Linked DNA regions of Homo sapiens. The protein of the gene in region 1 purifies or fractionates together with the protein of each later gene. This does not show direct contact. Each region holds a gene or a part of one and is shown on either strand. Other genes may lie near its edges.

Evidence for each region. Proteins that work in one complex are often made in the same cells at the same time.
Region 2: the proteins of NAT10 (region 1) and CCDC137 purify together in Homo sapiens (affinity purification with mass spectrometry; one large-scale study listed by BioGRID and IntAct). This does not show direct contact.
Region 3: the proteins of NAT10 (region 1) and C12orf43 purify together in Homo sapiens (co-immunoprecipitation; 2 studies listed by BioGRID and IntAct, with this or other methods). This does not show direct contact.
Region 4: the proteins of NAT10 (region 1) and NGDN purify together in Homo sapiens (co-immunoprecipitation; 2 studies listed by BioGRID and IntAct, with this or other methods). This does not show direct contact.

Annotation. Positions count from the first base shown.
Region 1 is NC_000011.10:34,129,629-34,133,128, reverse strand, and holds part of NAT10 (RNA cytidine acetyltransferase), read right to left. Parts: intron 2,317-3,500; coding exon 2,192-2,316; intron 1,749-2,191; coding exon 1,598-1,748; intron 1,005-1,597; coding exon 908-1,004; intron 104-907; coding exon 1-103. UniProt on the Homo sapiens protein: RNA cytidine acetyltransferase that catalyzes the formation of N(4)-acetylcytidine (ac4C) modification on mRNAs, 18S rRNA and tRNAs.
Region 2 is NC_000017.11:81,669,737-81,672,067, forward strand, and holds part of CCDC137 (coiled-coil domain-containing protein 137), read left to right. Parts: intron 1-488; coding exon 489-717; intron 718-2,007; coding exon 2,008-2,090; intron 2,091-2,331.
Region 3 is NC_000012.12:120,999,986-121,003,236, forward strand, and holds the end of C12orf43 (protein CUSTOS), read right to left. Parts: 3' UTR 1,208-3,251; coding exon of another isoform or gene 1,080-1,207; 3' UTR 501-1,079; downstream 1-500. Other genes in the region: HNF1A (hepatocyte nuclear factor 1-alpha), read left to right, coding at 1,080-1,207. UniProt on the Homo sapiens protein: Plays a role in the regulation of Wnt signaling pathway during early development.
Region 4 is NC_000014.9:23,472,703-23,475,687, forward strand, and holds part of NGDN (neuroguidin), read left to right. Parts: intron 1-2,468; coding exon 2,469-2,606; intron 2,607-2,855; coding exon 2,856-2,940; intron 2,941-2,985. UniProt on the Homo sapiens protein: Part of the small subunit (SSU) processome, first precursor of the small eukaryotic ribosomal subunit.

The DNA.
Region 1 (3,500 bases):
GCACTTCTGGAAGGGCATTCTGGGTGGGGGGCACGGGAGGCAGAAGGCAGAAGAGATGGTGAGCAGGTGCATCGGAGAGCATCTGGAGATCATTGGGAGAGTTCTGTGGAAGCCAAACACGGGTCAGTGAGAAGCACTCTTCCTCTTGCCCTTTACGCAAAAGGTTCGATTCAGAACCACAGGATGACTGCAGTATGGCCTTCTCCAAAGCCAAGTGAGGAGCAGAAGTCCAGCAAAGCACCTTTCTAGTATTTTGGCAAGCCTGAGACTCTTCATAACAGGTTAAGTGGAACTTAGCCTCAAATGCCTACTGTCCTCTCACCCCGAGCACTGAGGCTGGACAGAAGAAGAGAATTTATTTAGCACTACTTATTTCACAGCTAGGAAGTGAACTTTTTACAGATAAGAGGCTGCTATTTCAGGAAAAACTGTCACCACTTCTAACACCAACTCTTCAAGCCTTCCATTAAAAGCTGTTCATAAAAATACTATCTAGACATTCAAAAAGTATCCTTTTTAACCAACCCTTTTGTTTTTAAGAGTCTCAGATATTCTAAACCCTCAAATTCACTGTTCCATAAAAGTAGCCCAGAGCTATAAAGCTGGTCTCAGGTCAAACTGCACCACCGGGCCACAACTGCAATGTCACCTCATCCTATCAGTTTAGTAGGCAGGCAAGAAATGAAAGCACTCCTTTAAAAATGGACACAGCTTTCCACCCTGTCCCGTTACTGCATGGAGCTACATGCTCTATACCTACACACAGCAAGATCAGTGGAACTCATCAATGTCCCAATGGAACAGTCACCTAAGCCATTGGGTAATAAAATATGCAAATCAAGTAAAAGGGGACTGCCAAATGCTGAAGCTCCCTGCTACCATTCACACAAGGGCTAGCTGCAGTTACCTTGTAGTGAGAAGCCACGTAGAGGGCCATAAGCCGTTGGAGGAAAACTTCAGAGGCCTTGTGGTAGCAAAAGAGGGTATCTCTATTAACATAGTACCTGGGTCTGGAGTTAAGAAACCAAAACAAAACAAATAGCCGAAGACAGGTCATACTACTCTCTGGAGGCAGAACAAATTTCCGTAGCTGGGAACAGGAGCTCAGTGTCCTAAGCAGAAACACATAAAAGAAGGAAGAAGAGGGCCAGGCGCGTTGGCTCACACCGGTAATCCCAGCACTTTGGGAGGCTGAGGCAGGCAGATCACAAGGTCAGGAGTTTGAGACCAGCCTGACCAACATGGTGAAACCCTGTCTCTACTAAAAATACAAAAATTAGCCAGACGTGGTGGCTGGCACCTGTAATCCCAGCTACTCAAGAGGCTGAGGCAGGAGAATCACTTGAACCCGGGAGGCAGAGGTTGCAGTGAGCTGAGATTGTGCCACTGCACTCTAGCCTGGTGACAGAGCGAGACTCCATCTCAAAAAAAAAAAAAAGAAAGAAAAAAAAAAAAGGAAGAGAAAAAGGAAATTGAAAATGTTCAACTTTCCCCTTTCTCTAGAGCAGCATCCTATGAAACAAAGGACTCAAGTCCTTTGAATTCTTTCACCGCCCCTCTCCTTTTCACAGGGCCAGTGAAACCCAGAGGAGGATACAGTTCACAAGCTTCAGGCAAGGGGCAGCCTGAGACTATCCGAGTGATGTTGAGGCAATCCAGGCACAGCAAGTCATTCAGCCACTTCTCCACTGCATCCCCAGGGGCGTATCGGATTGACTCCTGGAGGGAAACCTCATACAGTGTCCGCGCTGCTCCCCACAATCACACACACAAAAGAAGAAACAATGATTAAATATGTATTGTCTAAAAAAGCAAGGAAAAATGTTTCACTTTATATTTGTCCCATGGTGGCCAGAGACGTGTGGTAAGAATTTAAACTGGGTGGTTTAAAATTGTTTTTGGTGGATATTCAACTTGCCACGATACCAACCCCAAAGGGATCTCAATGCAACCATGCCCTGAGACAAGGACACACAAGGGCCCCACCATCAGAAGGCCCTAGTCTGGCTCCCATCTGGTCACTGGACTGCTGTTCCTCCGAAAAAAGCTACTTCTCCTCTTGGGGACTCAACCTCTCAGCCTGATGGTGGGAAGGTTTGGTGCTTCCCATGATGTCACAGGGGAAGCGAGGATCAGTAAGACTGAAGGGCCTTGCTGTGAACCGCGGGACCCGGGTCAGGTTCTGGGGTACCTGATGCCAATCTGGCTGTCGTCGTGGTCTTATTCTCAGCAGTGGTGCTGACCTGGCTCTGGGCGCTCTGTTGACGGAGCTGCTGAATTAGCTTGAGGGACAGTGACCGGCCAGTGCCCTCATAGCTAGAAACAAAGGCAAAAGGAATCAGGCACAAGGTCCCAAATCCACTGTCTAGGAGGGGACAGAGAGCTGCTTTCCTCCACCTGCTGAAACACCAGACCCCTGCTTCCCCCAGGACAGCCTTGCTCATCTCTGAACTTCCAGCATAGCAGGCACCTGTCCAAAGGAGGCAGGGTGGCACGGTGGCTGAGCTTGGGGCCACCCAGGCCTGGGCTCACGTCCTGGCTCATCTACTTAGTATCTTTGGGCAAGGAGCTGAATCTCTTTTCGCCTCATCTTCAAGAGGGGATTATTCTATACACCTCACAGGACTGTGATGTGAACTTAAAAAATAAGGACTGGAAAAAGGATGTAAGTAAAGCCTTTAGCATAAAGGCTTTAGGCAGTTTTAGTGAAGCTGGAACAAAGTTAAATGGTCAACTAACGGAGCTGCTTTTAGAAGTACGGTGCATAAGGAAATGAACTGAGAACATTTCCAGTTTGGAAAATAAAACAAATCCACCACCTCAGTAATTCTTTTCATTGCTATGCCCACTTATAAGGTGACATAAAATAGCTAAAAAATGTTGAGAAAAAAATTAAATCACCTATAATCTGATAACTCAATCAGCTTTCATTGTTGAGTTTTCTTCTCCTTGTCTTTAGTCACAGGCATATGTCACCACAGGGTACACACAGCACTTTTCATTACATCATTTCATAGTACTCATTATTATATTCAAAGACTGTAAAATACTTCCTCTTACTCAAATAATGATAAAAGCTAGATGTTTTATGCCCACTCTCCACACCACATAACAAAGCTCTCCCAAAAGTATCCTATTTATTTATTTAAGAAAAAAGAGTAAGCACAAGCAACAAAACTTCAAAACTTTTGTCGTTAAAAGACATTATTATAAAGAAAGTGGCCGGGCATGGTGGCTCATACCTATAATCCCAGCACTTTGGGAGGCCGAGGCGGGTAGATCACCTGAGGTCAGGAGTTTGAGACCAGCCTGACAAACATGGTGAAACCCCGTCTCCACTAAAAATACAAAAGTTAGCCAGGCATGGTGGTACACACCTGTAATCCCAGCTACTCAAGAGGCTGAGGCAGGAGAAATGGGTTGAACCTGGGAGGTGAAGGTTGCAGTGAGCCAAGATTACACCACTGCACTCCAGCCTTGGCGACAGAGTCAGAGTCTGT
Region 2 (2,331 bases), on another chromosome or scaffold:
GTTTTTAGTAGAGACAGGGTTTCACCGTGTTAGCCAGGATGGTCTGAATCTCCTGACCTTGTGATCTGCCCATCTTGGCCTCCCAAAGTGCTGGGATTACAGGCATGAGCCACCGCGCCCGGCAGGTCTGCCCACGTTTCTCTGTGTAGCTCCACTGGGCTTCTTTCGGCAGCTGTGCAATGGAGTCTGTGGGTGATCAGAGGAGAATTCATTCAACCAGCCACCTAGGGGTGGACATTAGGTTGTTTCTGCTTTCCTTTTTCAGCTGTGCTGCAGTGGACATCTGTGACAGGTGCCATTGGGCTGGGGGGTCACGTCCCCGGGGATGCCGGGCCGGGCATTCTACATCCTCTTCAGCTGCTGTCGTTGGGGTGCTTCCAGCCAGCCTGGTCTTCCCTTCCTGTGGCTTTGGGAGGGGAAATGAGCATGGGTCACCTGCCTGCCACTGTCTGCCTCCTGCCTCCTCTGAGGCCTCCCTTTGTCCTCAGCCCAGGTGACCTTCAGAAAGACATTGGAGAAGGAAGCAAAGGGAGAGGAGCCCGACATCGCAGTCCCCAAGTTCAAACAGAGGAAGGGGGAGTCTGACGGGGCCTATATCCACCGCATGCAGCAAGAGGCCCAGCATGTGCTGTTCCTCAGCAAGAACCAGGCCATCCGGCAGCCAGAGGTGCAGGCAGCTCCCAAGGAGAAGTCTGAGCAGAAAAAAGCAAAAAAAGCGTGAGTGGAGGCGGGAGGGGGAGGGGTCTGCCCTGGGAGCCGGAGGGAAGACATTGGGTTCCCATGACGGCCCTCTGCAGGTACCCTGTTTCATAGCCATGGGGCAGCCTGGATTCAGGGAGACCAAGCCAGAGCCCTGGGAGTTGGCGAGTCGGAGCATCCAGCTGGGAGCCAGTGAGGGTGTGGCCTCCAGGAGGCTGCGGAACCTGGGAACTCTGCGGAGACCTCGCTTGGTCCTTGCTTTCACAGGAAAAGCACCAGAAAGCCCTAGCCCTGTGGGAATCAGCCCTGAGGGGGTCGGTCTGAGGGTGACGTGCCCAGGGGTTCTGTTTCCATTAGAACAGAATGTCTCTCGTCCAAGAGACTACACCTTCCTAATTCTCTAAAAGCTTTGGCCGAGTACAGTGGCTCACGCCTGTAATCCCAGCACTTTGGGAGGCTGAGGCAGGTGGATCACGAGGTCAGGAGATCGAGACCATCCTAGCCAACACGGTGAAACCTTGTCTCTAATAAAATACAAAAAAAAAAATTAGCCGGGCGTGGTGGTGCATGCCTGTAATTCCAGATACTTGGGAGCCTGAGGCAGTGGAATCGCTTGAATCCGGGAGGCAGAGGTTGCAGTGAGCTGAGATCGTGCCGCTGCACTCCAGCCTGGTGACAGAGCGAGACTCCATCTCAAAAAAAAGAAAAAAAAAAAAAAGCTTTGAAGGTTTGAGAGGTTGCTTTCAGCTCTGTAGATTCCCTGTTTCTGGATTGTTGTATTACTTATAGTTACCTTAGCCAGTGAAAGTTCATCACAGAGAACGTGGCCCAGATACAGCCTGGCGCCACGGTGATCTCCAGAGCTGTCGCTGAAGGTGAAGCTTCCAGATTCACATTGAGGGAGACGTGATATACAATGCTTGTTAGGCCCTTTAGACACAGCAGCACCGGATGGGCTGGATGAGTCTCTGTTGGGTGGTCTTTGGCAGCCTTCCCAGCCTTCGTGCACAAGGTGCCAGTAGCCCTTGCCCACGTGTCTGCACACATTGTCAGATGTTCCCTGGCAGGTAGCTGTCCCCAGCTGAGAACCACTGGGGGACCTGTGAGGGGCCTGTTGGGGTCAGAGCCTTCTTTGGTGGGCAGCTGTGGGTTTTGGGGTGGTAAGGGGAGCGGGGACTTGGAGGCAGCCACCTGTTCTTGGGTCCCTGCTCTGCCACAGGGGATCCCTTGTGGGTGGGGCGGCCTCTGCCTCCTCCCTGGGTGGAAAGAGAATTTAGGAATCTGAGTGACATGTGCTTTCTTCCCCAGGTTCCAGAAGCGGCGACTAGATAAAGTCCGACGGAAAAAGGAGGAAAAGGCGGCAGACAGGCTGGAGCAGGAGTTGCTCCGAGGTAGCTCTTCCCAAAGCGATGGTGTCAGCAGTGGTCCGGGTGGGGCCTGGGCGCAGGCCTTCTGTTCCCCACCAGCCCTGGCTGCACTGGGCACCTGTGGTTTCCCCTGGGGTCCACAGCCATTAGACCACTGGATGAGTTGGTGTTCTGTCCCAGCCCTATGGGAGGGAGGTGGGCGGGTGGTGGCTCTGGGTGTCAGGGGTGCAGTGGCTGTGGGCAGCAGTCCTCAGTTGTATTCTGC
Region 3 (3,251 bases), on another chromosome or scaffold:
ATTTGTTGCCAACATTTCAAAATCAGGAATTTTCACATAGAAATCCAGATTTCTGGCATCTTTTGGAAAATTGGAAAAATTCATATTCCCATATAACAGTGCACCAGGCCTCACTGCATCCACTCACATCGGCTCCAATGACCCCTGGCGGTGGGGCGGTCACCTGAGTTTGTAATCTATGATGCCATTGTCAGGAGTGGGCACTTTGGAGTCAGGTGGGTGGGCTTTGCAGCCTGCCTTTTTGCAAGCTGCCCCCTTTCTATAAGGTTCCTGGACCCGGCCCTGGCAGCTGTCATGACAGCCACTGAGGCCATTCTGTGTCCTGGCATTCACCCCATGAGGCGTGTCCATGACCACCCCCATTTTACAGATGAGAAAGTGGACACTCAAGGAGGGGAGGGACTTGCCTCATCTCCCACAGCTACCAGATGGCAGGGCCAGGACTCGAACCCAGGTCCCACCTCAAAGCCCATTCTCTTAACCATTGCCATCAGTCAGGGTTCTCCAGGAACACAGAACCAACAGATTTATTTGAAGGACTTGGCCCGTGTCTGCGGGGGGCTGGCAGGCCTGAAATCTGTTGCTGGCAGCTCTGGGGAGTGAATTCTGCAGCCTTGAGGCAGAATTCCTTCTCTGGGAAACCGGTTTTTGCTCTTACGGCCTTCCACTGATGTAGGAGGCCCACCCATATTTTCAGGGTAATCTCCTTCACTCAAAGCCAACTGATTGTGGCATTAACCACATCTACAAAGCACCTGCATTCACAGCAGCGCCTAGATTAGTGTTTGACTCAGCCTAGCCAAGCCAACACGTACAACTACCTACCTCGGCATCTCACCGGGGCTTCTCCAGTGTTCACACTAAGATGTACTCAGGCCACTCCATGGGCGGCCGTGGACCCTGGCTGGGAGGCTCCCTTTGAAGAACCGAGGGTAGAGGTGTGACTTTGGGGTTCCTGTTATCTGCTGTGATCCAGGAGGTGTGGCCCTGCCTCCCCATCCTGAGTACCCCTAGGGACAGGCAGGTGGGGTGGGTGTGGGTGCCTGGTGGGTGGCTAGCAGCCTTGTTTGCCTCTGCAGTGTCCTCCAGCAGCCTGGTGCTGTACCAGAGCTCAGACTCCAGCAATGGCCAGAGCCACCTGCTGCCATCCAACCACAGCGTCATCGAGACCTTCATCTCCACCCAGATGGCCTCTTCCTCCCAGTAACCACGGCACCTGGGCCCTGGGGCCTGTACTGCCTGCTTGGGGGGTGATGAGGGCAGCAGCCAGCCCTGCCTGGAGGACCTGAGCCTGCCGAGCAACCGTGGCCCTTCCTGGACAGCTGTGCCTCGCTCCCCACTCTGCTCTGATGCATCAGAAAGGGAGGGCTCTGAGGCGCCCCAACCCGTGGAGGCTGCTCGGGGTGCACAGGAGGGGGTCGTGGAGAGCTAGGAGCAAAGCCTGTTCATGGCAGATGTAGGAGGGACTGTCGCTGCTTCGTGGGATACAGTCTTCTTACTTGGAACTGAAGGGGGCGGCCTATGACTTGGGCACCCCCAGCCTGGGCCTATGGAGAGCCCTGGGACCGCTACACCACTCTGGCAGCCACACTTCTCAGGACACAGGCCTGTGTAGCTGTGACCTGCTGAGCTCTGAGAGGCCCTGGATCAGCGTGGCCTTGTTCTGTCACCAATGTACCCACCGGGCCACTCCTTCCTGCCCCAACTCCTTCCAGCTAGTGACCCACATGCCATTTGTACTGACCCCATCACCTACTCACACAGGCATTTCCTGGGTGGCTACTCTGTGCCAGAGCCTGGGGCTCTAACGCCTGAGCCCAGGGAGGCCGAAGCTAACAGGGAAGGCAGGCAGGGCTCTCCTGGCTTCCCATCCCCAGCGATTCCCTCTCCCAGGCCCCATGACCTCCAGCTTTCCTGTATTTGTTCCCAAGAGCATCATGCCTCTGAGGCCAGCCTGGCCTCCTGCCTCTACTGGGAAGGCTACTTCGGGGCTGGGAAGTCGTCCTTACTCCTGTGGGAGCCTCGCAACCCGTGCCAAGTCCAGGTCCTGGTGGGGCAGCTCCTCTGTCTCGAGCGCCCTGCAGACCCTGCCCTTGTTTGGGGCAGGAGTAGCTGAGCTCACAAGGCAGCAAGGCCCGAGCAGCTGAGCAGGGCCGGGGAACTGGCCAAGCTGAGGTGCCCAGGAGAAGAAAGAGGTGACCCCAGGGCACAGGAGCTACCTGTGTGGACAGGACTAACACTCAGAAGCCTGGGGGCCTGGCTGGCTGAGGGCAGTTCGCAGCCACCCTGAGGAGTCTGAGGTCCTGAGCACTGCCAGGAGGGACAAAGGAGCCTGTGAACCCAGGACAAGCATGGTCCCACATCCCTGGGCCTGCTGCTGAGAACCTGGCCTTCAGTGTACCGCGTCTACCCTGGGATTCAGGAAAAGGCCTGGGGTGACCCGGCACCCCCTGCAGCTTGTAGCCAGCCGGGGCGAGTGGCACGTTTATTTAACTTTTAGTAAAGTCAAGGAGAAATGCGGTGGAAACTTCTTGCTTGTCCACAAATCATTCAGATGGGGTTTGGGCAGGTAGCGGGAGGCTGGGGCAGGCCAGAGGCCTGCGAAGAGGAGACAGGCTCCAGCACCCACGCTCTCACACCCCACATCTCTGCTTTTCTTGCTCTGCTGAGACTCTAATGACAAAGCCAGATTTCATCTTAACCTCAAGCTTCTACTTTTTAAAAAAATTTTGTTTTGGAGACAGGGTCTCACTGTCACCCAGGCTGGACTGCAGTGGCATTATACAGCTCACTGCAGCCTTGAACTCCTGGACTAAAGGGATCCTCCCACCTCAGCCTCACAAGCAGCCTCACAGGCGCTCACTACCATGCCCAACTAATTTTTGTATTCTTTTTTTTATAGAGACGAGGTTTCACCATGTTGCCTAGGCTGGTCTGGAACTCGGCTCAAGTGATCCACCTGCCTCGGCCTCCCAAAGTGCTGGGATTACAGGTGTGAGCCACCATCCCTGGCCATGAGCTTCTACTTCTTTTCTTTTTCTTTTTCTTTTTTTTTTTTTGAGATAGGGTCTTGCTCCATTGCTTAGGCTAGAGTGCAGTGGCGCAATCTCGGCTCACTGCAACCTGCACCTCCTGGGTTCAAGCGATTCTCCCACCTCAGCCTCCTGAGTAGCTGGGATTACGGGCGTGTGTCAACATGCTCAGCTAATTTTTGTATTTTTAGTAGAGATGGGGTCTCGCCATGTTGGCCA
Region 4 (2,985 bases), on another chromosome or scaffold:
AAATACAAGTATGAAAATCATTGTAATAAGAGTCACTGAAGGAGTTTTAAGCACAGGAGTTACAGCAGATTTGTGCTTACAGAAAGATAACTAAAAACAGCATTCAAAATATATTCCCTTCTTGTCTTTATCATTCACTTATGTTCTTATTGTCCATTTTTATTTAAAAAAAATTTAAATCTTTGTTTTTCTCTCATATGCTTGTAGCTCAGTTTGAATTTGACAATGCCCAAGCACGTCGGAAGAGCCTGCTTCTCAAATTCTTACCTGTTTTTGTCCTGGGTACCATGCTTTTTTGTTTTGTTTTGTTTCGTTGAGATGGAGTCTCCCTCTGTCGCCCCGGCTGGAGTGCAGTGGCACGATCCTGGCTCACTGCGGCCTCTGCCTCCTGGGTTCAAGTGATTCTCCTGCCTCAGCCTTCCGAGTAGCTGGGATTACAGGCGCCCGCCACCACTCCTGGCTAATTTTGTATTTTTAGTAAAGACGAGGTTTTACCATGTTAGCCAGGCTGGTCTCGAACTCCTGACCTCAGGTGATCCACCCACCTCGGCATCCCAAAGTGCTGGGATTACAGGTGTGAGCCACCACACCAGGCCTTGGGTACCATGCCTTGAACCATTTCAGTGCCTTTTGGAGATGGATGAGTTGCCAGCATCCTTCTTAGATCCCTATATATTTGTTTATTTATTGAACAAATACATATTAACTTATCTTTTTGACCAAAGACTTTTACTAGGTGCTTTATAGGTTACAAAGTTCTTTCACATTATCTTATTTGGGCCTCATAATTATTCTTTGTGGCAGGGAGGAAATGTACATATTTTACTGATAAGACTGAGGTTGGCCTGGTGCAGTGGGTCACGGCTGTAATCCCAGTGCTTTGGGAGGCTGAGGCAGGTGGATCACGAGGTCAGGAGTTCGAGACCAGCCTGGCCAACATGGCGAAACCCCGTCTCTTAAATCTTAAACAAAGATTTAAATTTTTTTTAAATAAAAATGGACAGTAAGAACATAAGTGAATGATAAAGACAAGAAGGGAATATATTTTGAATGCTGTTTTTAGTTATCTTTCTGTAAGCACAAATCTGCTATAACTCCTGTGCTTAAAACTCCTTCAGTGACTCTTATTAACAATGATTTTCATACTTGTATTTACCCATAGAATATTTGGCTTAAATACAAAAAATTAGCCGGGCGTGGTGGGAGGCACCTGTAGTCCCAGCTACTTGGGATGCTGAGGCAGAAGAATCACTTGAACCCAGGAGGTGGAGGTTGCAGTGAGCCGAGACAGTGCCACTGCACTCCAGCCTGGGCGACAGAGTGAGACTCCATCTCAAAAAAAAAAAAAAAAAAAAGACTGAGGTCACAAGGTTAAGTGACTTACTCAATATTTGACTACCAAACACCTAATTCAGAACTTAAACTCAGTTTGTGGACTCTAAATCCTTTGCTCTCCTTCTATACCACAGTAGTGTTGATCTCAAGAGCTTAGCATGTTGGCTTAAAGACATCCAGGGATGAGGTGTTGGAGTCAGATTGAGTTTGAATCTTAGCTCTACTTGTATTACTGTGTTATCTTGGCCAAGTATTTAACCTCTCTGAAATAGGTTTTCTCAGGGCTGTGAAGTTTGGAAGATACATAAAAGCCCAAAGAAAAAAATGAAAAATCAGTATAATCACCACTCTGAGATAACCACTGTGGTAATATTTTTGAGATTTTTAAAATTATAAGAATAATATATGCAACACTTTTTCACACTCTAAAGTACACCATTTCTTCCTTTTCCTCATCTCACCCTAGGGGTAGCAGTTACTTGTGTGTTGTCTTGTAGACATTTTTCTATGTGTATAAAATGTATTCATCATATCCCCCCCTACACACACACACTTTCACAATTGAAGTCATATTACACTTTCTACAACTTGTGGTGACATGGATTTAATTCGATGTCATTATATATAAATCATTGTTTTTACCTGTATCATATAATTCCATTGTATGGGGGGAAATTGGTAATTACTTTGATTAAATTAATTTAAAACTTGGCAGTCTGTGGAGACATTTTTGATTGTTAGAGCTTGGAGGGGCCATCCGTGGGAAGAGGCCAAGGATGCTGCTGGAAACCTACAATGCCCAGGACAGCCCTCAACAAAAAATGTTCTGGCTTCAAATGTCAATAGCTCTGAGATTGAGAAACCCTGTTATAGTCTTTTTTGGGGGGGTAGTTTATTGATTTTCCTCTTCTCATTGTCTTCTATTAATTTTCTGAGCGTTGTTTCTCTTGTATTAGCATAACTTTCTCATTGGCCTTCTTAGGCATAGCTACTTCTTGAGACTATTCCAGATACCTAATATGAACTGATTGGGAAAATCTTGAACTTGGAAAAACATCCCGTTTACCCTAGGCTTTCATCTGGTTCTTTGGCTAAAACCAAATCTGTTTTTCTTTCTGTTTTGTTCAACTCAGGGTCTCAGCTTCTTGGAAGTGAAAGACCAGCTGCTGCTCATGTACCTTATGGATTTGACCCACCTCATTCTGGACAAAGCCTCAGGAGGATCTCTTCAGGGACATGATGCAGTTTTGAGACTGGTGGAGATTCGCACGGTATGAAGCATTTGGCTTCTTGGAGTTTTAGGTTTCTAAATTTTGAGCTCCAAGGGTATCACACAGTAGCTCTCATTTAAGTGAGTCTTCTCATGTTTAAGGAAACCAAATGAGAAAAGGTATTTTTCTATTCATTTGCTCTACTTTGTACATATTTTAGGTGCCTTATGTGGCACCTTAATATAGGGACTCTGGTGTGTGCTTCATTTTGGGAAGGAAATATAATCCTGATTAACTACCATGTTGTAGGTTTTGGAAAAGCTTCGTCCCTTGGACCAAAAGCTGAAGTATCAAATTGACAAGCTGATCAAGACTGCAGTGACAGGCAGCCTTAGTAAGTGAGGAGACCATCATGAAGTTGTGGGGACCATCAGAAAGT